2 separate regions of the Homo sapiens genome follow, and region 1 is linked to region 2. Evidence: fine-mapped expression QTL. A gene starts in region 2. The other region holds a variant in brackets. All regions are shown on one strand. Distances are between the middles of the regions.

What was found. PIP is the estimated chance that this variant, and not a neighbour inherited with it, causes the effect. A credible set is the group of variants that fine-mapping cannot tell apart.
Region 1: its variant is the best candidate, but not a certain one, in a credible set for the expression of SP8 in unexposed skin (GTEx, PIP 0.89).

The regions. Positions count from the first base shown.
Region 1 is chr7:21,364,828-21,376,665 of GRCh38, forward strand. No RefSeq gene overlaps it. Among named protein-coding and RNA genes, the nearest start is that of SP4, 57 kb to the right of the region's middle. RefSeq lists an enhancer at 423-512 and a silencer at 3,571-3,771. The variant G/A (reference allele first, on the strand shown) is at 6,414.
Region 2 is chr7:20,780,809-20,792,646 of GRCh38, forward strand. It overlaps SP8 (Sp8 transcription factor), which reads right to left and starts at 6,078. Exons shown (of 2, transcript NM_182700.6): 1 at 5,970-6,078; 2 at 1,471-4,987. The coding sequence starts at 5,990. The coding sequence ends at 3,482. RefSeq lists an enhancer at 2,456-3,116.

The DNA.
Region 1 (11,838 bases), 580 kb after region 2:
GGGAGTGTTAAATGCTGCAGCCACTGTGAGAAATAGTTTGGCGGTTACTCAATAAGTTAAACATAGAATTACCATATGACTCAGTAATTCTCATCTTGAGTATATACCCAAAAGAACTGAAAACAAGTGTTCAAACAAAAACTTGCATGGAATATTAATAGCAACACTATCCATAACAGCCAAAAGCTGGAAACAACTCAAATGCCTATCAGCTGATGAATGGATGATCAAAATGTGGTATGTCCATACAGTGGAATTTTATTCAGTTGTGAAAAAGAACTAAGTACTGATACATGCTATGACATGGATGAATCTTAAAAACATTATGCTCTGTGGTTGCCGTTTTGTAGTGAAAAAGAAATTATACTAAGTGAAAGAAACCAGACACAAAAGACCACATATGGTATGATGCCATATATATGAAATATTCAAAGCTGTGAAATCTATAAAGACAGAAAACATACTGGGCCAGACACAATGGCTTATGCTTATAATTCCAGCACTTTGGGAGGCTTAAGGCCAGGAGTTCAAAACCAGCCTGGTCAACATAGCAAGACCCCATCCCCACAAATGAAATTTTTTAAAGAAAATTAGCCAGGTGTGGTGACATGCACCTGTAATCCCAGCTGAGGTAGGAGGATTCCTTGGGTCTAGGAGTTCAAGTCTGCAGTCAGCCGTGATTGCACCACTGCACTCCAGCCTGGGCAACAGAGCAAGACCCTGTATCCAGAAAAACAACAACAACAACAACAAAAATCCAGATTATTGGTTGCCAGGAACTGGAGGGACAAGGAATAGAAAGTGGTTGCTTAATAGGTACAGGGTTTCCTTTTGCAGTGGTGAAAATATTCTGGAACTAGATAGTGGTGATGGATGTACAATCTTGTTTTTTGTTATGTGTATTTTATCACAGTTTTTAAAAGTAAAAAAAAAGTTGAGTAATTTGTTCAAGGTTGCACAGCATAACTAGGAAAAGGTGGATTTGAACTCATGCAGGAAAGACATTTCAAGAATTCCAAGTTGTTTGATAGGACTACATTGAAGTACATGCAAGTGGGTGGAAGAGAAGAAAAAATGGCAAAAGTTGAGGCAAAGGTAGGAATCAGAGTCTTTGTCATGAAGACACATTTTAAAGTGAATGGAGACAACCGTTGAGGCACTGACACAGGAATAGGGAGCCTGAGGATGAGAGAAGGGCACCAACCCCTCACTGAAGTCAGAGTGCTCCTCGCTAGATGAACTGTGTCTTCTGGGTGTCTGAATAGAGAAAGTGACCACTGAAACACAATAATTGCCGCAGTTGGTCAACATCCATCCCCCACTCCCAACCTAACAGTGAAAATAGAGCTATTCATTTCTATACCTCAAATACCTCTTTTGTAAAGAGAGATAATAAAAGTTCCTATTTCATAAACTTGCCATAAGGATCAAATGAGTTAATATACGCAAAATTCTTGGAACAGTGCCTGGCACAAAGTCAACACCACAGAAATGTTTGCTATTACAGTTTTGTTATTATTACCTCGATGGTTTCCATAAAGTGTCCCTCAGACCTTTTCATTTTTATCATGTATGATAAAACCAGGTGCTGTCTTATCTGGAATGTTTGCCCAAGCACATTACGTTTTGTTAACAGAGGATGAATCATTGAAACCTGACCTCATGGGAAATAGCATTATCTGCCATTTCATCTGTATTTTGCAACTACAACATACATTTCCTTCCCAGTTGCTTTGAATACAGAGAAAAAAAATGTTCTTCTCAGACTTCTTTGTACTTGTCCACAAATAATTTAGTAGTGCTAATTAGGAGAGTCCTAAAAAAATTTTAATACAATGCAATAAAATAAGAAACTATACCTAATAGTTCAGGTAGAAGATGATATTTTAGACTTTCAAGCAAAAATGCACACTTTTTATCATTACAAATATTGCATACACATTATGCTGTTTCATACAAATTCACAATTACAGAGGACAAAGGCAAAGAAAAAGAGACATTTTTAGATTCTGCAACTGTCCATCATGCTTTAGAACTTTCTGCACCAAGATTCACTAATCAGCTCTCACTGATCAGTCCTCATTATGTAAAATGTGTATCAGTGAAATGTGAAAATGAGCCCTCTTTCACTGTAACCAGACCTGCGGAAAGAATTTTAAATCTTGACATTTGAGGCTCTTTACTAATGACAACAGTGTGATAAACAGTTCATTAATCCTATTTATCAGGCTGAGAAATAAGCCAAAATTGCCATAGGCAAGTAACACTATAAAGGAGTTTTTAAAAAACAAGGAGGTACTTTATGGTTCTTTAATCTAAACCAAGGACTTAGTTTTTTTTCTGTAAAGGGTCAGTGAGTAAATATCTCTGGTCTTGTCAGTCATCACAACTCTATCATAACTACTCAACCCTGCCACCGTAATGTGAAAGTCGCCATGGACATTATGTAAACAAATGGGCCTGGCTGTGTTCCAATAAAACTTTATTTACACAGGCTACAACATGGATGAATCTTAAAACATTATGCTAAGTGGAATAAGCTAGACACAAAAGGACAAATATCGTATCATTCCATTTATATGAGGTATCTAGATTTGGCAAATTCACAGAGATGGAAAGTAGAATGGTGGTTGCCAGAGGCTGGAAAGAGAGGGAAATGGGGAGTGAGTGTTTAATGGGCCCAGAGTTTCTGACTGGGATAATGAAAAAGTTCTGAGGCCAGGCATGGAGGCTCACGCCTGTAATCTCAATACTTTGGGATACCAAGGCGGGTGGATCACCTGAGGTAAGGAGTTACGAGACCAGCCTGGCCAACATGGTGAAACCTCGTCTCTACTAAAAATACAAAAATTATTCAGGCATGGTGGCAGACGCCCATAATCCCAGCTGCTCAGGAAGTTGAAGCTGGAGAATCGTTTGAACCCAGGAGGCAGAGGTTGCGGCGAGCCGAGATTGCACCACTGCACTGCAGCCTGGGCGACAGAGTGAGACACCATCTCAACAACAACAAAAAGTTCTGGAGGTGAGTAGTGGTAATGGTTGCATACCCCTATGAATGTACTTAATGCCACTGAACTACACACTTAAAAATGGTTAAAATGATAAATTTTAAGTTATGTATATTTAACTACAGTTTTTAAAGAAAACGTATTTATAAAAACAGGCAGTCGGCCTAAGTGCAATAGCTTGCAGACCCCTGATGTAAACTTTCTTGTCCTTCTCACTATACTTCTTCCTTTGCCTCATACATCTTTGTAGTTGCTGTTGTTGTTGCTATTGCTGCTCCTCATTTCATTTCTTGATTAACCTGTGCAGCCAAAATGTTGTTTTGTGTGCAGCGGAAAAGAAAACCATCTGCACTCATTGAGGGTTACAGTTCTGTCTAAAGGTTGTTCATTCTGGAGCTCATAGCTTCAGCAGATGCAGATCTAGAATTATAAATATAAGAGTATGCCGTTCTGTGCTTTCAAAATGGCCATAGTGATACAAAAACATTTCAGGACAGATGGGCTGGTTTCCACGTTTTCTGGTGGGGGTCTAAAAAGGCTTCACTTTTGTTTGTCAATGGCCAGTAGCACAGATTAGAGTGCTGGTGTTAAGAGTGCACCTGTCAACCATGGATGTCAAGAGCTTTTCTCTATGTGAAGGTTTTGGCTCTTGTACAAGTTGAACCCTCAGCCTTGACTCATCTCTCTGCTTTGACTGATTAGGTCAATTGATCATAAATCATCTTCCAAAGACTGGCCAGTGCTCAAGCTTTCAGGTCAAACCTGATTCCTCAAAATAGAAACTCAGGCAAACAGAAATGTTCACATTTTAAAAGGAAACCTATTTTAAAATGAATATTTTGAAAATACAAATTATTAACATTATTATTGGAAGATAACTTTAAGGGGGTCAAATCAGTCTATTAAAACCTCTTAACAATTAGAATCAGACTGGGCGTGGTGGCTTACTCCTGTAACCTCAGCACTTTGGGCAGGAGCATCACTTGAAGCTCGGAGTTTGAGAGCAGCCTGGGCAACATAGCAAGACCTCATCTCTACAAAACATCAAAAATTTTTGACCAGGTGCAGTGGCTTGTTCCTGTAATCCCAACAGTTTGGGAGGCCAAGGTGGGAGGATCACTGGAGCCCAGGAGTACAAAACCAGACTAGGCAACATGGCGAAACCTCATCTCTACCAAAAAAAATATTAGCCAGGTGTGGTGGCACACACTTTTAGTCCCAGCTCCTCGGGGGGCTAAGGTGGGAGGCTTGAGCCCAGGAGGTCGAGGCTGCAGTGAGCCAGGATTGTACCACTGCACTCCAGCCTGGGTGACAGAGCCAGACCTTGTCTCAAAAAAAAAAAAAAGAAAAAAAAAATTAGCTGGCTGCAGTGGTGCATGCCTATAGTCCTAGCTACTTGCGAGGCTGAGGCCAGAGGTTCCTTTAAGCTCAACCTTATGAGTTAAAGGTTACAGTGAGCTATTATTGCACCACTGTGTTGCCTGGGTGAGAGTGAAACCCTGTCTTTTAAATTAAAAAAAAAATAGAATTCCTTCTTTACTATTAACTTGAATCTAGTGCACCAAAATTGATGACCAAAGAGTTGGCCAACGTAAGCTACCTTTGATGGAGCTGAAACCACAGTGGTAATAAATTCTGTATCTTTAATGAAATGAAAATTATTTTTATTAATCTGAGAAAACAAAGCTCTAACAAAGCTATTAATTTCTAAAGGATTTTTTTTTTTTTTTTGAGATGGAGTTTTGCTCTTGTCACACAGGCTGGAGTGCAACAGCGCAATCTCAGCTCACTGCAACCTCTGCCTTCTGGATTCAAGCAATTCTCCTGCCTTAGCCTCCCGAGTAACTGGGATTACAAACACCCGCCACCATGCCCGGCTAATTTTTATATTTTTAATAGAGATGAGGTTTCACCATCTCGAACTCCTAACCTCAGGTGATCCACCCGCCTCGGCCTCACAAAGTGCTAGGATTACAGGCGTGAGTCACCACGCCTGGGCTTCCAAAAGGATTTTTACCTAAAGGGAAAAAAAAATCTATTATTAGTATTATTTACTAATCATCCAACATTTTTAAAGCACCTTCAATACCTGCTTAAAAGACTAAAATCATATGACTTGCACACTTCAATAATTCTTCGTGTTTTTATTTTTTCTCTAATTTTTCTAATGAGTCTTTGCATGGCAAAGTGCAAAAGACATTGATTTTAGAAATTTCAAAAATGCAGACATCAAAGAGCCTCAACAATTTTATTTGATATAACAAAAATAGATTGTTTTAAATTTTTAATGCCATTCTCACTTTTTTTCTTTTAACACTTGACTCTTCTATCAATAAAACACGAATTGGTTGAAAACAACTTATTGGACTTTGTAAGGGCAAATATTGTTTTCAAATAAAAAGATAGATTTGTATTTGAAACCGCATTTTATTTAAATAATTTTAATTTGCATATATGAAAAAATGTGTTAAAATGTTTACTAATACGAAAATGCAGAAGTAGCACGTTGTCTACTTTAGCCATATATCTATTGTAGTCTCTCTACATTGTGCAGGTCCTCAGGTGTGAGGGGGAAGACAGACAGCAGGTGTCTGAGAATTTATAATCACCAAAATGATTAGGTTACAACACTCATTTCTAAACACGTGAAGTATTTACAGATCACTTGAAGAATCACTCTAGTTTTCGGGATGTGACTCGTTGACCTTCAAAAGTGGAAGCAAGTGAATTTGCCATCAGGCTCCTTCTTTCATTTTGAAGTTTAATATAGTGCCACTGGCTCTCCAATATCCATGGTGCCAATTTCCCACTGATGTCTTATATCTTGGGTTTCCGTTCCCTTGTTAGAAAAGTATAGTGATGAAATAGGTGAGGTAACTTTGAGATCAGAAAGCCCATGTAATTACATAGTGTTTCCAGCACAATCTACAACGCTCTGACACCGGATATCAGCACAACAATAAGTAAGGGCAAAAAGCTTGTCAGGGAAGTTTGGCAATGAGTATAGCCTCAGGTAAACACAAAGGCGGTGGCTGTTAACTCTTAGAAATCAGAATGTTTATGTGGAGAATAAGTTGGCATCTCCTGATCATTTCTAGGGGGTCTTTTTGTGAGGCTCATTAAAAAAAAAAAAAAGACCAAAGACAAGATGTCGTGTACATAAAGTGAATGCCTCTCTTCTGAGAAGAATCATTCACAAAAAGGATTATTTCCAACCACAAGGGGATATGCATAGTTGTTAGAATTACATAAAACATTTCTTTTCTAAAACTGTCTTATAATTCTGCAATTTGAAAAATTTAACTAGCTGCACTAATTGGACTCACACAAATAAAGCCTCCAATTTTCTTATTGAAAATTGAAGTCCACCCTGTTAGTATTTTCCCTTCATAACGATGACTCTCC[G/A]GGGCCCTGAATGCCTGCTGAGCTTTCCAAAAAAAACATTTTTGTCATTTTAAATGATTTGTCTCTGACTATACATAAAAGCAATTAGAACAAATACTTTTATTTAAATGTATGTGCTGAGCATTTTTTTCTTTGGCTGGTTTCTCGATTTTGAATTTCTTACCATGATTTGTCTGCACACTTCCAGTGCAGCTATTACAGCAAACTCTTAACTCTGCTTGCCAATCACATTGAACAGCTCTAACTAGTCATGTGTGGAATTCAGAGAACAAAGAATCCTTCCATGGGTCTGAGATTCCTTCACCTCAAAAGCACTTCAGATCACAGACTGAACCGAAAGTTTCTACTGAAACCAACCTCTACAATTCTTAGCATAAAAGTAACTATTAATATCAGATACTGCCCTATCTGCTTTAGATAGAGATACCTCATTTCCCCCAACAAACAAATTAAGTAGTAATTATCATTATCACTTCACAGGTATGGAAATTGAGGCTAGAGTATGTTAAGAAGCTTGTCCGAGGTCCTCCCTGCTAGTAAACATTGAAACCAAATTTAACCTCTTTTCTGTCTAATACCAAATCCAACACTTCCTTCATTACACTGTGGCAAAAGTCACTCAAGCCCCCCGGTTCTCTCTCCTTGCAATGTAAAATCTGTACACATTGCCATGGTAAAAAAGTTAAAATGTAAAAGCCAACATATAAAAAACCATGTATAAAGAATATACAGTAGGTTACTAATTTAATTTGTGCTTAACGTATATATAAAAAACTAATATACTAAAATATTAGTAGTGGCCATCTTTTGGCGGATTACTGGCAATGTTTCTTTCTTACACATTTTTTACTTACAAATTTTCTATATTAAATATGATACTTTTATTAAATATTTATTTAAAATGCAAGGAATGTCACTAAGTAGTCAAATGCAAATGGAATAATGAAATGGATTTTCAGAGTGACATGAATTTGTCATGTTGTCATGTTCAATTGATAATTAACATTGGGCTTAACATGTCGGTGAATTTTTAATGTCCAAGGGAGGGCTTTTAAATGCAAAATGAACCACTTAGAGCTGTCTAAATGTGAAATTTGTTATTGTGGTTAATTAAAGGACTAAATTTTTCTTAAACCCCTAAATTCAACATATAACTCTTACTAGCAGATTTAGAAATTAAATAATTTTTATTAAGAATAAGCAAATCGCTTTTAATTACTCTTTATTTTTTAACTAATAGTTTAGTAAGTTTAATGTATTAGATTTTTAACCTACATATATAACTTTAATATTTTTTATTTTTTCAAACACCTCATTTCTGATAAGGCCAACTTACAGACTAAAACAGTCTTTATAAATTCTTAAGCAGCTTTTTAAAATAAAACAAACTGAATGTACAACTTTAGTAAGCATTCAAGCACTGTTTGTAAACTTAATTGATTACATTCCCTAATGCATGTCAAATTTAAATCACAAGTATAATCAGGCATTTCTAATTAAAAATACAATACAATTAAATTCCCTAACATGTCAGAGATTCTCTAACATGTCATCTCTTGAACATTTCGTATGCTACATATAAGAAACATAAATTATCATTATGACTTAAAATATATTTCACATAAACTATCACAGTATTAATACTTTCTATATATTATGTTACTATCTCTATATAACTTCTACAACTTAATGGGTTTGCAAAGTCATTTTGTAGTAGGACAAGCCTCAGACAAAACTCCTCAGACACCAAGTTAAAGAAGGAAGGGGTTTATTCAGCCAGGAGCATTGGCAAGACTCCTGTCTCAAGAGCCAAGCTCTCCAAGTGAGCAATTCCTGTCCCTTTTAAGGGCTCACAACGCTAAGGGGGTCCGTGTGAGAGGGTTGTGATCAATTGAGCAAGCAGTGGGTATGTGACTGGTGGCTGCATGCACCAGTAATCAGAACGAAATAGAACAGGACAGGGATTTTTACAATGCTTTTCCACACAATGTCTGGAATCTACAGATAACATAACCAGTTAGGTCAGGGGTCGATCTTTAACTACCAGGCCCAGGGCGTGGCACCGGGCTGTCTGCCTATGGATTTCATTTCTGCGTTTTAGTTTTTACTTCTTTCTTTGGTGGCAGAAATTGGGCATAAGACAGTATGAGGGGTGGTCTCCTCCCTTATTCATCTGACTAAAGAGTGAATATTACTATTTCCAGCAGTGCCGGTTTCTCCAGATAAAGATTCAAAATGAATACCCTGCTACAGATCTAGGTAAACTGTCTGATTTGGGGAACTGGAATGTGGGATCAGAACTGTGATCCTTTTCCAAGCCGGTAACACTTACCATATCAACAGGGAAACTCAAAGGCATGCTTTTAGCTGCCATGCAGCTTTACAGTCCTTAAAATATATTCCTTCGGTAAATTTCCTTGGGTAAATTTCACCTTTATGCAAATTTTATTTTCAACTTTTTATTGTCTGATTTAGATACATGGAATTCTGCACCCACCACATGGAATCCAGCTAATTACCTTCAATTACAGTTAATTGAATTATGTACCCGTTTCATGGTGATAGAACATTTTTATATTTTATTCATTATCTATCTTCTTGACCACTACTTGCTAATCCTTACAATAGTCTCCTCCTTATTCATAGTTTCACTTTCCACAGTTCCTTTGGTCAACCACCGTCTGAAAATATTACATATAATAAGATATTTTGAGAGAGAAAGAAAAAAATAAGACCACATTTGCAGAACTTTTTTTACAGTATATTCTTATAATAGTTCTATTTTATTATTAGTTATTGTTAATCTCTTACTGTGCCTAATTTATAAACTAAACTTCATTATAGGCATGTATATATAAGAAAAAACACACTATATATACAGTTTAGTACTATCCTCAGTTTCAGGGGCCCACTGGGAGTCTTGGAGTATATCCCCCATGGATAAGAGGGAACAACTGTATATTAGCAATGTAATTGATTACATGTAGATTATGCAAATATATGCAAAATGTTTATAAATTCTTTTCCACCAGCACAGGAAAACATTGTTTTCATGTTCATTTATCACACCTATATATAGGTCACGGTTTGAAGACAGCTAGTTCATCTGGCTATCAACCTCCAAGGCCTGCCGTAGCTCACTCAAATTAATCATCTAATTAACAATCTTTTACACATAAACATAAAGTATTACTCTTAATAAGTATAGGATTTTTGTAAACCCACTGCAGTGCACCTAATTAAGCTAATTTTTTTATTTTTTCAGAAAATCTAAGCTGTCTAGGTTAGATGCACAATAAAAATAATAATCAATGAAATTAGCATAACAATATTTAATTTGCCATTGCCTATTATAATTGACATTGTTTCCAATTTTTAATACTATAGATAAAATTACAGTGAACATGTATTTGTCCATAAACATAGTTTTATTGTTCTGTTGAATTTTTTTTTTACAAAAATTCCTAGTAGTAATATTACTCAGTGAGCAGATGCATTTAGTTTGGCTGTTCATAGGTATTGCTTTGAATGCTTTCCAAAAAGCTTGTTTGATCACAACTGTGTCAATTTTGTACTTACTTGTTTTGTTTGAATGTTTTATAGTATAAGCAAATTTATAGAGGTTAAATAGATGCTACTAAAATGTTGCTTTGATTACTAGGAACAATAGATTTTTTTTAATAACTTCTTTTGCTATTTAAATTTTTACTTATGTGGGTTTTTTTGTTTATACCCTTTGCTCATTTACTACTGGGACTTGATGTTTGTCTTGTGAATTCAAATTAATTCTTTATGTATTATGTTAAGCTTTTCATACTTATATTTTATGCAAGCTGTTCTTCGATTAAGTTTTATCATATTTCATTTTATACATATACTTAAATGTTTTGTATTCACTTCTATGGCAATGAATCTAGAAATCTTTTGCGTAATTATTATTTAGCTTTCTTGAAAAAAAATCTATTTTAAAATATGTGTTTGTTCCATGAGGGCAAACACCATGCCTATTTTACTCAAAAGAATCTGCAGGATATAATATGTAGCCTAGCACTTAGGGGGCATCCATTAATTTTTTTGTATTTGAAAATATACAGAATTTCTCAAAGTGTTTGGCAATGAAATAAATTTTGATAACACTGAAAAGTATAGTCTTATGGAATAATAATTCTAATTAGAAAAGATTTTTAAGAAAATTAGTCTATTCAATGAGATTTACAATGTATATTAGCATATTAAAGTCTGAGTAGTCTGGTTATTAAAAAACAAAAACAAAACAAATAAAAACCTATTTAAGTTTATTTAACCCAAAAGTATACAAATTTATTTGACCATAGAACCTTCATTAACTTCTGTTATATGCAGATCAAATGTCCAGTGGAATAGGCTTCAGGAATTATGTACTAATGTCATTGCACATTCATTTGCCTAGTGTATTTATCAATGAAAATATACTTAAGATCAGTGTTCACATAGAAAGTATTACAATGGCTTCTACTGAAAAAGAAAAACATCTAATAAAGTAGCTATGAGCTCCATAAGCATTGCTTGGCCTAAAAAAGAAAAAACACAACAAAAAGTAAAGTAACTATAAGCAATGCAAAAAAAATTCTTTTCTTATTGTTATATTTTAAAAATATTTTCTCTGTAATATATATGGAGGGACACTATTAGTGTATCATTCACAGATATTTCTTTAAAAACTTCACAGTAGTGTGTGTGTGTGTGTGTGTGTGTGTGTGTGTGTGTGTATTCTGTGATCAGATCTGTTAAATTATGGACATTAGAAATTGGATATTTGCTTTAAACAATATTAAGTAGTAATTTTTTTGCACAGCTCTTAAAATAAAAATAATTATAATTTAAAAGCATAGAGTTTTAAATAAATACATTAAAATTAAATGTACAGAAATTTTCTAAAACCAACACTTTTAAAGTAGAACATATTTATTTGTTCTCTTCAATGAATAAAATTTTAGCTAAGTCATTAAATTCCTTTCTGTGTGAAATGCACAATTTCTCTGTCCAAAATATCTTGCTAATTGGACTTTAGGATTCTGTTTTGAATGTAGAAAAATGGACAGAATATCATTTTTATCCATAAATCAAATATAAGCTGAAAAAAAATTTTAAATTATAACTTTTCTTGAACCCATCAGTAACCTGAGATCTCATGGCAACCAATTAGCCTGAATCATAAGGAAAGACTGGAAACTCCAAGAAGAGACTGGATGCAAGCACTGAATCACCTGGGGCAGAGCACAAAAAGAATATGTGGCTGCTATATAAGTGGGCAGAAATAATTCATATGCTATTAGCAACAAATTGTTAAATCTGAGCCTCGACTATGATGAGAGTATAAAACCCATAGTAGCAACAGACACAGGGGTATCTATACCCATTCACGGGCTCTTCGTGGACCTTCATT
Region 2 (11,838 bases):
AAGGGAAAGTTTGCACATCTGTACAGCAGAAAAAATGTCCCCCTTCAATCACCCCAAAGAAATCTTCTTCCAGACAATATTTCTCCTTGTCATAACCCACCTCTTAAATCAATGTTGATTCTGCATGTAATGCAACTGATATTATAAATGTACCAAGCAGCTTTCCTCTTACCTGCCACTACATTTAACTCCTTCAGAACCGCTCTTTCCGAATCCCTCAGCATTGCAACTTTCAATAAAAAAGAAACAACACTTAAACTGTGTTCTGCTTGTTATCCTAGGAAGAAAGTGACAGAAAGAAACTATTTTACTTTTAAAATCCATTATTTAGAACTATAGTATACCAAAGAATCAGAGTTAACTTGTTTGTCTAGAACCATAGAGACTGGAGGCCTCAAATACCTGCATAGACAGCAGGATTAAAGGTGTCACCTACTTGGACACGAGCTATATTATTCTAAAACATCTTTTATCCCTAATTGCTTTTTCCTCTCAATTTACAGTGCTCATAGCACTTTGTATTTTCACTTGCTTCTATGCATTATAATTACCATATATAGATTTCAATGGAAAATTTTTCAGTTCAAGATGTATACCAAGACTATACTTAGGGTGGGGAGATTGCAAACAGAAATAAAGAAGCTAAACTTGTAAGAATCCAAACACACTAACTTTTTATTCAATTTGATTCAAAATAATAATATTAATCTAATAGTGAAATAGTGATATAACATCAATCAACATTTAGAGTATTTTATGTTTCAAAGTATGGCTCAGGAACACCCATTGCTAAATGCACTTAGACATAACAAGACAGTATTTTTTATTGGCATCATTGACACCTATGAACAATAGCCTAGTAAATAGATTAAGGTTTAACCTTCCTTTTCTTTGGTGGCTGTTTAGAGACTTTAAAAGAACAGATAACTCATTTCAACAGGAATCTACTACTGATATTTACCTCTACATAATCTTTAGCTAAGACTTGGAATGCCAAAAACAAGCTTTTGTTAGCTTGACCTCCTCCACCTCCTAACAACAAAAGTTATCCCCAAACCCATGTTTTTATTTTAGATGTATTGATCTTCCAATGTAAGGCTTGGCCTTTTAAATACTAATGCAATCAATGGCCAACAACCTGACTCCTTCTGGAGACTGAGAAGGAAAGAGAATGGTGAAATTTCTTTGAATTGTGACTTAGTACAAATTTTAAGAGGTCAGTAAATCCTGATGCTATGAGCTAAATCTACTGGTAAATAATCAATTACATTCCTTAGACACTATAATCTTTATCTTGGTAAACAGAGAAAACACAGCTTTGCCAAATAGATCTTTCCATCTAACATCTTAAAGGTAATTATTTAAATATTACCACAAACAAGGATATATTTTGTTTAAATTAGACAATTAACTGAAGATAAAATGCACGTCCATAGTTTAAAAAGGGGAAAAAATACAAATTAACTGGCCTAGTCTTTTATCTGAGTTTATTATACCATTTAAAATATTACAAATAAATCAATTACATTTCATGCATTTAAAATGCAAATCTAAAATGCTCCAGAGAAAGGCTTTTCATTTCAATGTGAAATATCCAAATTATTTCAACATTACAATGAGCAATTAGTTTGCAGAATCTGCAAACATTTAAATGTAGTGTCAGAAGTATTTATTAACAGTTAACAATATTACCTTCAGGAAATACACAAAGGCCAAAGTTAGTCGAGTTTCACTTGGACAATTTATTTAATACATGGGTTTTGGCAGACCACTTATTATGAAATATAGGAGAACTCTCACTTTAACTATGCCTGAACTGCCAGCAAATGCAAATAAGTACATGCTCCATTAAATTAAATGTCATCCAACATTTATCAAATATTGTCTTAGTTACAGCTTGATACCTATCTAAATTCATATTCGAGCAAAACTAGGCCCCGAAAGTGCGTTTGTGGCTCTGCACCTCCAGAAGTGAGTTCAAAAAACCTGCAGCTCATCAGAACTGCAACAATAACTCTTAATATTTTCTTGTGACAAAAAAAAAAAATCAAGTTTACTTCAATATATTTTCAAATATTTACTGGAAGTAATGTACAAGAAAAATACTATACAAAATCGTCTCCTGGACAACTGCACCTCACACCCTTACACTGGCGGAGTTATATTTAATTGGTAACTAATCTAGAACGATTCTCCAGTTGTACAAACCATTAGGTTCAGATATATTTTACAAAGGTTCTTTTTTATTTTCCCTCTTTTGGTATTTAAACTACAGCCTCGTCTGAAATAAACGATAGCTTCTTCACTTGTTTGTAAGTTTAAATCACACACAAAAAAGTTTAACCCTACGATCTTCATGAATTGAGAGAATTTACGAAATTGGTACTATACAATTGACGGCCGGACTAACAAAAAAGATTGGGAGGTTATGTTTGGGAGTGGTGAAAAAACGAGGTAGAAAAGGACAAACATGGAGATAGTTAATCTGGTCTCACCGGAAAGGAGTATTTTTGCATAAGAAAAAAGCACCTACCCTCACCCCCGCCCCCACCCCGTAAGTTAAGTTAATGCAGTCAAAGTAACTTTGGGATCAATATTAGCAGTTTCGAGAGAAAGATTGCTCCCCGTTAGAGGAAAAAACTATTATAGAAGGGAAACCAAATGGAAGGTTGCTATTTTCCCCCTAGTTTTTTTAAAAATAAAATATATGCTATAAAGATGAAAGAAAGCTGCTGCAGCGATTCGACAAGACTGCCCTTTGCTGAAACTTGCATCGGTTCCACCTCAGGGAACAAAGAAAAAGAGGCAGACTGACATTGGGAGATCTAAACTCTACAAACTCTGGGTCTCGGGCTGCCAAAAGTCACCCCCACCAAGCCCCGACAGCCTGAGTAGGACGTCCGGCGATGCCCAGGGGCCTGGCAGGGTGCTCCGAAGCCGAGGTGCTCAGTACAGCGGCTCTGGAACCAAGCAGCCGTCTGCCCGGGCGGCGCTGTTCTGCCCAGGCCTCCAGCCTCTCCCTCTCCACCGCTCCGCTCAGGCTTGTCAGCCGAGCCGCTCCTGCCCGCGCGAGGCCCGCTGTCTACCAGGCACTGGATTAGTCCAGCTCTACCTCCAGTGGCCGTTCCCTCTAAAAGTTACGCCCTTCACAACCTGGGGGGTGGAGGAGGGGAGGACAAGGAAGAGAGAACGAGAAATAAAGGCCCGACGAGGCGCGGGTTCCGGCTGCAACGGGTTCAGGCAGCGTTACCCGTGGAAAGGGAAAGCCAGGGCCCGGGACAGCGATGCGTGTTACTTACTTGTCCATATCCCCTTTACAAAGTTAAGTCACAGAAGGAAGAAGGAAGAGGGGCAGAAACAGAAAGAGACAGAGAGCGAGTCGGATGCAATAGGGAAAGGCTGGAGTTGAAGTCCGGACAGACAGGGCCCAAGAGGACTTGGTGGGAGGAGGTCGGGGAGAGGGGCGGGCGCAGGGTGGGCGTCACTCTAGGCCGTTGCGGTGCCCGGGCTCGGGGGGCTGCAGCAGCTCTGGGGAGTGGCAGGGCGGGCTGCCCGCGGCGCTGTGCTCGCTGTCGGTGTCGCTGCCCTTCTTGCCGCCGCTGCCCGAGCCCGCCGAGCCGCCGCCGCCGCCGCCGCCACTGTGCGTCTTCACGTGCTTGCTGAGGTGGTCGCTGCGCATGAAGCGCTTGTTGCAAACTGGACAGGCGAAGCGCTTCTCGCCGGTGTGGGTCCGCAGGTGCCGCTGCAGCTCGTCGGAGCGCGTGAAGCGCTTGCCGCAGAAAAGCCAGTTGCACACGAAGGGCCGCTCGCCCGTGTGCCAGCGCAGGTGCGCCTTGAGGTGCGAAGTCTTGCCGTACACCTTGCCGCAGCCCGGGATGTGGCAGCTGTGCAGGCCCTTGCGCCGCAAGCTCGCCCCGGCAGGGCCCAGCCGCTCTGCCTCCTGGCAGTTGGGGCAGTCGCAGGTGGCGCGGCCGGAGTAGCGGCGAGCTGAGGAGCGCGGGGAGCCCCCCAGCGGCGCCGAAGGCCCAGCGCTCAACATGGAGCCCCCCGCGCCGGCCAGCGGCGACGGGGCCGAGTCCGGGTAGGAGCCGGGTAGCACTGGCTTGAAGCCGTCCATGAGGTGCTGCCCGGCGGGGCTGAGCAGGTGCGAGGAGGCGCCGCTGCTGAAGGCCGAGTGACTCAGGCCCGAGTAATCCGAGTTGTAGCCTCCGAGCGGCGAGTGCAGCGAGGTTTGGAGCCCCCCGGCGGCAGGGTGCAGCGAGCCGGGCAGCGCAGCCGCGCTGTTCGGGTTCTGCACGTCGATCCAGCCGGCCCCCACGTCCCACCAGCTGGAGGCGCCGGCCGAGCCCACCTCGCCCGCAGCACCCAGGCCCGGGTGCGAGGGCTTAAACCACGACTCGTACGGGTGCGCCATGCCCACCCGCGGGTAGATGCCCTGCAGCCCGTCCACAGAGGTGTGCACCTTGGAGATGAACACCGGCTGGTGGGAGCCGTCCTGCGAGTGCGCGGAGGAGCCGCCGCCGCCGCCCCCGCCGCCGCCGCCGCTGCCCCCGGAAACTCCGGGGGCCTGGAAAACAGAGTAGTCGTTGGCGAAGGGCGAGCTGGAGGCGGCGGCTGCGGCGGCGGCGGCGGCGGCTGCGGCGCTGCTGGAGGTGAGGGAGAAGGCGCTGGAGCCAGGCGAGCCGCCGCAGCTGAACGAGTCGGACACCAGGGCCGCGGCAGCCGCGGCTGCTGCCGCGGCCGCCGCAGCCGCCGAGGACGAGCCGCCGTTCCTGGAGGCCCCGGACACGCCGAAGCTTGAGAGACTGGAACCCACTACGTTGCAGCTGGCGGAAGAAGAGGACGAGGAGCGTTTCCAGGGGTGGAAGCCTTTGCCGAAGGAAGAAGAGCTGTCCGAGAGGGAGGAGGGAGACGGGCTGGGGCTGCCTATCTTATTACAGGTAGCGGCAAGCATGGCCAGAGGAGTCGATCCCAACCTCGGTTCTTCCTGCGAGGAGGAGAGGAGAAGGAGTGGGGGAGGGGAGGTGGGCAAAGGGCCGGTGGGGGAGGAAAGGAAGAAATGTGCATCAGTCCTTCGGTAGCCTCCAAAGCGCCCCACTGCACCCCATCTCTCGCTGCGGCGCGCCGCCACCAACTCACCTGGCACCCCCAACAGCCCCGGCGCCCGGCCGCTTCCTACTCTACAGGAGGGGACAAGTTTGGCTGCCGGCGTCTGATTCGGGAGCAAGCACCACGCTAAAGAAGAGTTTGACAAGTATTCTCACCTAAAACAACACTCTCTTGCACACAAAGCCCCAGACACTTCGTAACAAACAAGCAAAAAGTCCAGATTGGAGAGGAAGGAAGTTTTCTTTGCCGAGAAGCCTGGGGGAAAACCATTGGATTGCTTTTAAGAGCGCTTCCCTGTAATCCGGAGAGCTTTGAAAAACCTGTTCGGGTCCCCAGAAACCCATCCTGGGTTGTTTCTCCCAGGCCAAAAGAAATCAAACTGTAGGGCTCACTCTTTCTTCCTGCTTTTCTTTCTTTCTTTTTTTAAAAGCATATCTACAGTAGTAAAAACGAGACGAGTTCAACGTACCTGCGAGACAAGGCGGGCTGCAGAATTTTTTTTTAAGGGTTAGGGGAAGAATCTGCACTTTGCCCAGAAGGAAAAACTTGCTCTCTTTACCCCCGAAATCGGTGCCTGTAAAATGGGCTGGACGCAGGTCTCCCGGGCAGGGAGCAGCGAGGCGCTGCGCGGTGGCTTGTCTAAATGCCCTTCGAACCTTTTCCTGCGCTGAAAAAAAGTGACTCTGCCCCCTTCTCCCCCTTTTTCTTTTCTCCAAACTCACTTGTATTTAAAGAAAAAAAAAAAAAGCTCTCAATAGAGAGACTGATAGCCCGTGGCCTGGCCGGGGCGACTTTAACCCCCTCCAATCGGCAATAAAAGGAAACTAATTAAACCAGCAAGAGAAAATCCTGAGACTCACCCCTAGAAGTGAAGTTGCCATCACACAAAAGTGCCCTCCTCCTCTCAGAGGATCTTTTTTATATTGATAAATCAGAGGCAGTGTTTTTTTTAGAGGTGTGCAATACAATGATCAGTTCCGCCCATTCCACCACAATTGTAGCTCCCTCTCCGGCTTTGAAGTGCCGCGGAGGCGCGGCCAGCCAATCTGCGGCCTCGCCGGGCCGCGCGGCGCGCGCGCCGTGAGGTCATCGGCGCCGCCGCCTGCCGCCGTGGTGGAAGGGGGAGTGGGAGCGGAGGGGGCGGGGGCGGCTGCGTGTGTTACAAAGCGCAAAGCGCGCGCTCGCGTGTATGAGTGTGTGTGTAACAATGTAACTGTGTGCGAGTGTGACCAGGCGTAGGAGAGGACAGTGCGGAGACTGGAGGGAGGGGGGATGGGGGTGTGACACCGTAACAGTGACAGTGTGGTAAAGGCGGGGAGTGGAGAGAGTGCAGAAAAGGGAGGGTTGTGTGATAAGATAACTGCGTGTGCGACAAAGCGGGGTAGAGGGACAGAGCAGTTAAGTGTTGGGAAGGGTGTGAGTGTACGGTAGTGTAACTGACAAACCTAGGGAGGGAAGAGGGACTCAACTGGGTGGGGGGTGAGTGTGTTTGGTGTTGGGGGAGAAGGAGGGCTGTGAACATGTGTATTTGTGCGACAGAGAAGAGGGAAGGGTGTGTGTGGGCGCTTGTGTTGTGTGCGCGCACCAAAGCTGGTAGTGGGGAATGGGAACAATGCAATAAAGTGTGTGTTTGTAAGAGAGAGACTGTCGAGCTGAAGAGAGAAACCGACTAAGTTGATGGAGGCTGAGTGAATAAATATTCACAAACGCTGCCCCTGTCGCCAACTTCCTTTGGCTCCTTGTACCTAAAATCTTGAGTGATTTTTTTTTCTTAACTTGGTAAACAGCGTCACTACATTTTTGAAGAAGATCTTTAAACCCACCTTTTCTTTCCCGGCTCTCCAACGAAATAGTAGAAAGGTTGAGAGGCTAAGGGTTATTTTTAGGGATGCGTTGGGACGTGGATGCGCGCCTGCGCGCCCATGAGTTGTTTCTTTGATGCCGTGGCTTTTTTTTTTTTTTTTTTTTTTTTTTTCCCTGAGGTGGAATTCTGCTTTAGAAGTGCACGTCTCACTCTAGGGGAGGAGGTGTGTGTGTCCCGTGGTGTTGAGTAAATTTCAATACAAAAGGATTAGATAGAGAAGAGAGTAAGCGAGGGTCGTTTTTTCTTTGGGTAAGAAATTGAAGAGCGTTTTACGGAATTTAGAAATTTTCACAGAAAACCTCACTGCCTCTTTCTGAGAAAAGAATCAGGACTTTGATCGAAATATATGGGTTCTATTTATCTAAGAATAGAGAGGAGCTTTTGACAAATCTTGGACATTTATCCAGGCGTCAGTGTCTAATGGCGATTGGGCCAGAGATCTGTCTATGAGTGTGTGTGCATGTTAATAGATACACTTAGTTCAAATTCGGTGGGGTTTAGTCATTTGCTTGCCATTTGTGTTATTAGTTGCCTTCAGAAATGCCATTACAATTTCACTGCCACCACAAGGGAACTTAAACCGCAGAAAGCACAACACCAGTGTAGCAAAAAGTCCAGTCTTTGTAGCCCTATTGAATATTCATAAGTTATAAAAACAGTTCATATTTTTAACCAGTTACAAGTGCTCTCAGAAGTCTAATTTTAAAATGGAATTAACTAAAATGTGACTAGCTGGGCGAACTGTTTTGTTTTGACTGGGAAAACATTTTTATTTTACTGTTGTGTTTGAACCCCCCTCAAGGATTTCACAGCTTCTAGGGATGTCAAAAAATCTTCCTAGGGTTTACAAAATTTCGAAGTCAAGTTGTATCGTGTAAATTTCATTGAGCAGAGTTGAAACTGATGTTTGTGGTGTGAGAGTGTACATTTCTGACCCTTTTTTAAACGCTGTGGGGATATTGACTGTACATCATATCTATTGATTAAGGGGGTAAGGTATACTCTCATACTTTGAAGTAAGTGTGAAGTAAATTAATGAACTGCTTTCTTTCTCTGAGGGCTGACGCTTACCATAAATGTCGTGTTTCTCCCTGCAAGCCGCTCTGAATGATTTTAGCGTGTTGAGAAGGCGTGACAGGCCAGCCCAGAAGGAGGAAGGGGTGGGGGAAGGAGGGTACTCCGTTTAACAAATAAAAGAGAATTAACTTCATTGCTTTGGTCTCCTTCTTTAATGATATTCATTTTAAGGGCCTAATATACAGTTGTTCAGATTTGGGGTTTAATTCTAATCAATACCATCATCCTCAAAGGTGGAGAAAAACAGCTTTGAGGGGAGGCTCCCATCTATGAATAGTTATTTATTTTATCTTTTTATCCTCCTATCTTCTGGAAGGAAGTGAGGCAGGACTATTAAAAAGTTAAATGCTGATACTGAGAGTAAACAGAGGCGTTAACACTGTTTCCTCAAAAATGCCAGGAATTAGAAAAACCCAGCGTCATGTGACTGCAGTTTTGAGCTACCTAATTCTAAGATTTTTCAAGTGTATAAATTAACTTTAGAATCATATGTCATTCTTCCTATAAGTCACAACGTTGGTGTGGATTTAATGAAAATACTGGATTCTTCAGTTTGTGTAAGATTGGCTTGCAGCATTTGGGGATTTCCACAAAGGTGTGTATGTGCAACTTTCTTCATTATATATATGTATATATATTTTTTATTAGAAATATATGTATATTCCACTTACTTTCATATAAAAAGTGAGCTATTTCTTTCATAGTAGCATTGGTCAAAGGGCATTTTTTTCTTGTACCACCCTTCTTTCACTCCCTCCCCAAAAGAAATGGCTAGTGTTTGTGACATGAGGCATAAGGCAGCTGTGTTAAAAAGAAAAGACAAAGAGAATTATATAATTGACCAAAAATTTTAGCAGTCATAATTTTGCATCTAAATATGCTTGAAACTAGACTTAATGACAGCTCTTTCTCCACTTTGGAGAAGTGACCCAATCATTCTTAAATCCTGTCCCATAGGAGAGAACATCTGTAATCCATTGTTGATATAGCCTGCCTGGCAAAGCATTTCAGGGTGCATACACTTCGGTTTAACTTTTACGATATTGATTATTACTCTTGAGTATTATATTGTGATAATATAGATGTTTGAAAAAGAGGGGGAAGAAAAATAGGAAGTACAGGCTTTCTAACATTAATTAAAAGTTTCTCCACCCCATATGAAGTTTAATGTGCTGGCAGGAAGAGGGGTAGATGGATATTCTGCTGTTTCTTGCAAACCTGTGGGATCCACTATCAATAAAGCTAAAATCTATTAGCATTCTGTATGCATCTGCAGCATAAATTTCATTTGAATTTCAAATTTAATAAACTAGGAGGTTTTTAATCATCCCTGGTTTTATTTGTTTGATATTAACATGCTTATTGACCGGGTCTGGTGACCAGTTTGATCATTACAGGACAGCAAAAAGTTAATTAAAACGACCACAGCCCCTTAATCATATCATCTGTCTCATCCATGTCGCTCTCTTTATTACCGGTGATGATGGATAGTCTCCCAGATTAATTTCTCTGTTTCTTCGATTTGGACAACAGCTTTTGGGACCTAATTTACATCCTGGGAACAACTTGCTCAAGTATATCTAACACCTTGCAGCTACAATATACATCAACATCTCCTTAGATGGAACGGAGAAAGGAAGGTTTTTTGCAGGCAGGTTTGAAGACTAATCAATGCTCGGATCTGGAGGTCTTAGCTTTCACAACCAAAGAAACAGAAGGTCCTAAAAGCAAATTAGAGGCCTCAATTCCTGCTTTTCCTTTTGCGGGAGTAGGAAGTGAAAGATGCCTCTGCTGTTTGATTAATAGATTAAAATGTGTAGCTACAGCGACAAGTAAATAAAGTCATTTGTAACCATTAAGTACAATTAGGGATTTATAGTGGAAAACATCAAAGTTATCTAGGCTTTCAAGTGTCCGGCAGCTCATCTACACCAAATACGGTTTTTGAACTTGTTAAGTGTGGACCACTATAAACAGAGCGTCAAAAAAAAAAAAAAAAAAAAAAAAAAAAAAAAAAAAAAAAGAGAGAGAGAGAGAAAATAAAAGGAAAGGAAAAAAGCCTAATGGTAAAAAATGCACACAAACTGTAGCGCGTACCTCTGCAGGGTACGTTTAAACCCGGCTCTTAGCATCTCGGTTTCTAGAGCGTTGGCAGGGACATGCAGCTCTGGAAGCTGACCGGCGGGTGCCCGCGGGAGACAGAGCGAACGCAGTGCTGGCACTGCGTCCCTGGCCTGCGCCTCTCCCAGAATGGGAAGACGACCCCCAACCCCTTGACTAGTGTGCGGGGTCCTCGCACGCGGACGTGTTGGCTACTAAATAAAGCGTGAAGAGGGATCGCTGGGTAGCTGAGCGCCGCCGGCGGCCGCCGGGAGCAGCGAGCTGAGCCAGGTTGGGTGGGGGTGTTTCCTCGTCGAGAGCTCTCTGGTCAAAGTTTCCTTCCCGCTGGAAAACAAAAACAAAAACAAAAAACAAACCAAAACCAAAACAAACAAAAAAAAAAAACCTGGCTAGGCGTGGACCTGTGAATTCCTGAGGGGTGCCCCTTAGCAGTCCATTTCTCTTTCGTGTGGTTTTACTAAGAAGTTACCTAACATTTCCTGGGAAGAGAGGTAATACAAGCCCCTCGCTGGTGGCAGATTGTTGAGCCGTAGGTGGGAAGAGATCAGTCGGCCAGAGCCCAGAGAGGGCTGTATTTTCCTGATTGGAAAATGGGAACTTCCACGCTGAACAATAGCCTCTATTAGTGAGGTTATTTGGTTCCAAACTGTCCGGCCACATTTATAGCCGAGTCCTTACTTTTCTGGTAGTGCTTAATTGGATGCATTTGTTGACCACAACGAAGCAATAGTGACTCTTGATCTACTGGCACAGGAGCTTCTTGGTGATGAAAAGCGTTGCCTTGATGACTGTAAATAAATGAGACCACTTGAGAGAGCATTTCCTATTTTTTTCTTGACTTGATATTTTTCTTCCATTCTCCTTAATATTTACTTTTTCTTCTCTGCCACTTCAAAATGTTCAAAAGTTAGGGACACTTTAATTAAAAGAGATTTACTTATCTGACTTAGCATATTACCAGCTTTGATTTATTTTAGCTGGGATATTCAAATTGCATAGTTAGAAGACAAGCGGGACTTTCCCCATGTATCAAACAATCATCTTAGTAGTAGGTAAGTTCATAGATAGGAAAAGTATAAAGATATTTACCAAAATTGATGTTCAAAATCTCCATCTCTGTGTACAGCCTGTATTAAAGGAAGAAAACAAAACACCTTTCCCTATTTATTGTCAACACACATAATGTTCATATCTTCATGCTATGTTAATGTGGCCTCGTGCTACTTCTACATTCAGGCTTGCACTCTACAGTACTTTTTATATTCATCTCTGCCAGCCCATGGATAAAATTGATAATTAATTCTACAGCACTTTGTATTTCTCCTTCATCATATAAATGAAGGAAACACATGTAGGGAAAAGAGTTTGCTCATTTAGTGTGAATGGTGTGTGTTTGTGTGTGACTGTCGTTCAAGGCAAGAGAGCAAAAGAGAAGCTTAGACATTCAGATGAGTGTGTCTCTGATTTTTTTCCTAGAATGGATTTGTTTCTGTTATTTTCTCTTTTGGTATTATATATCACTTTCTTACAGCTAACATGCAGAGTTAAAAACTACTAAATGCTTATCCTCAACACTATTGATTTCTTTTCATTCTGTTCTGTTAGTAGAGGAGGTAATGCTCCCAGATTACCCCGGGGTCTCCTCCAGACGGTTGACAATTGCAATC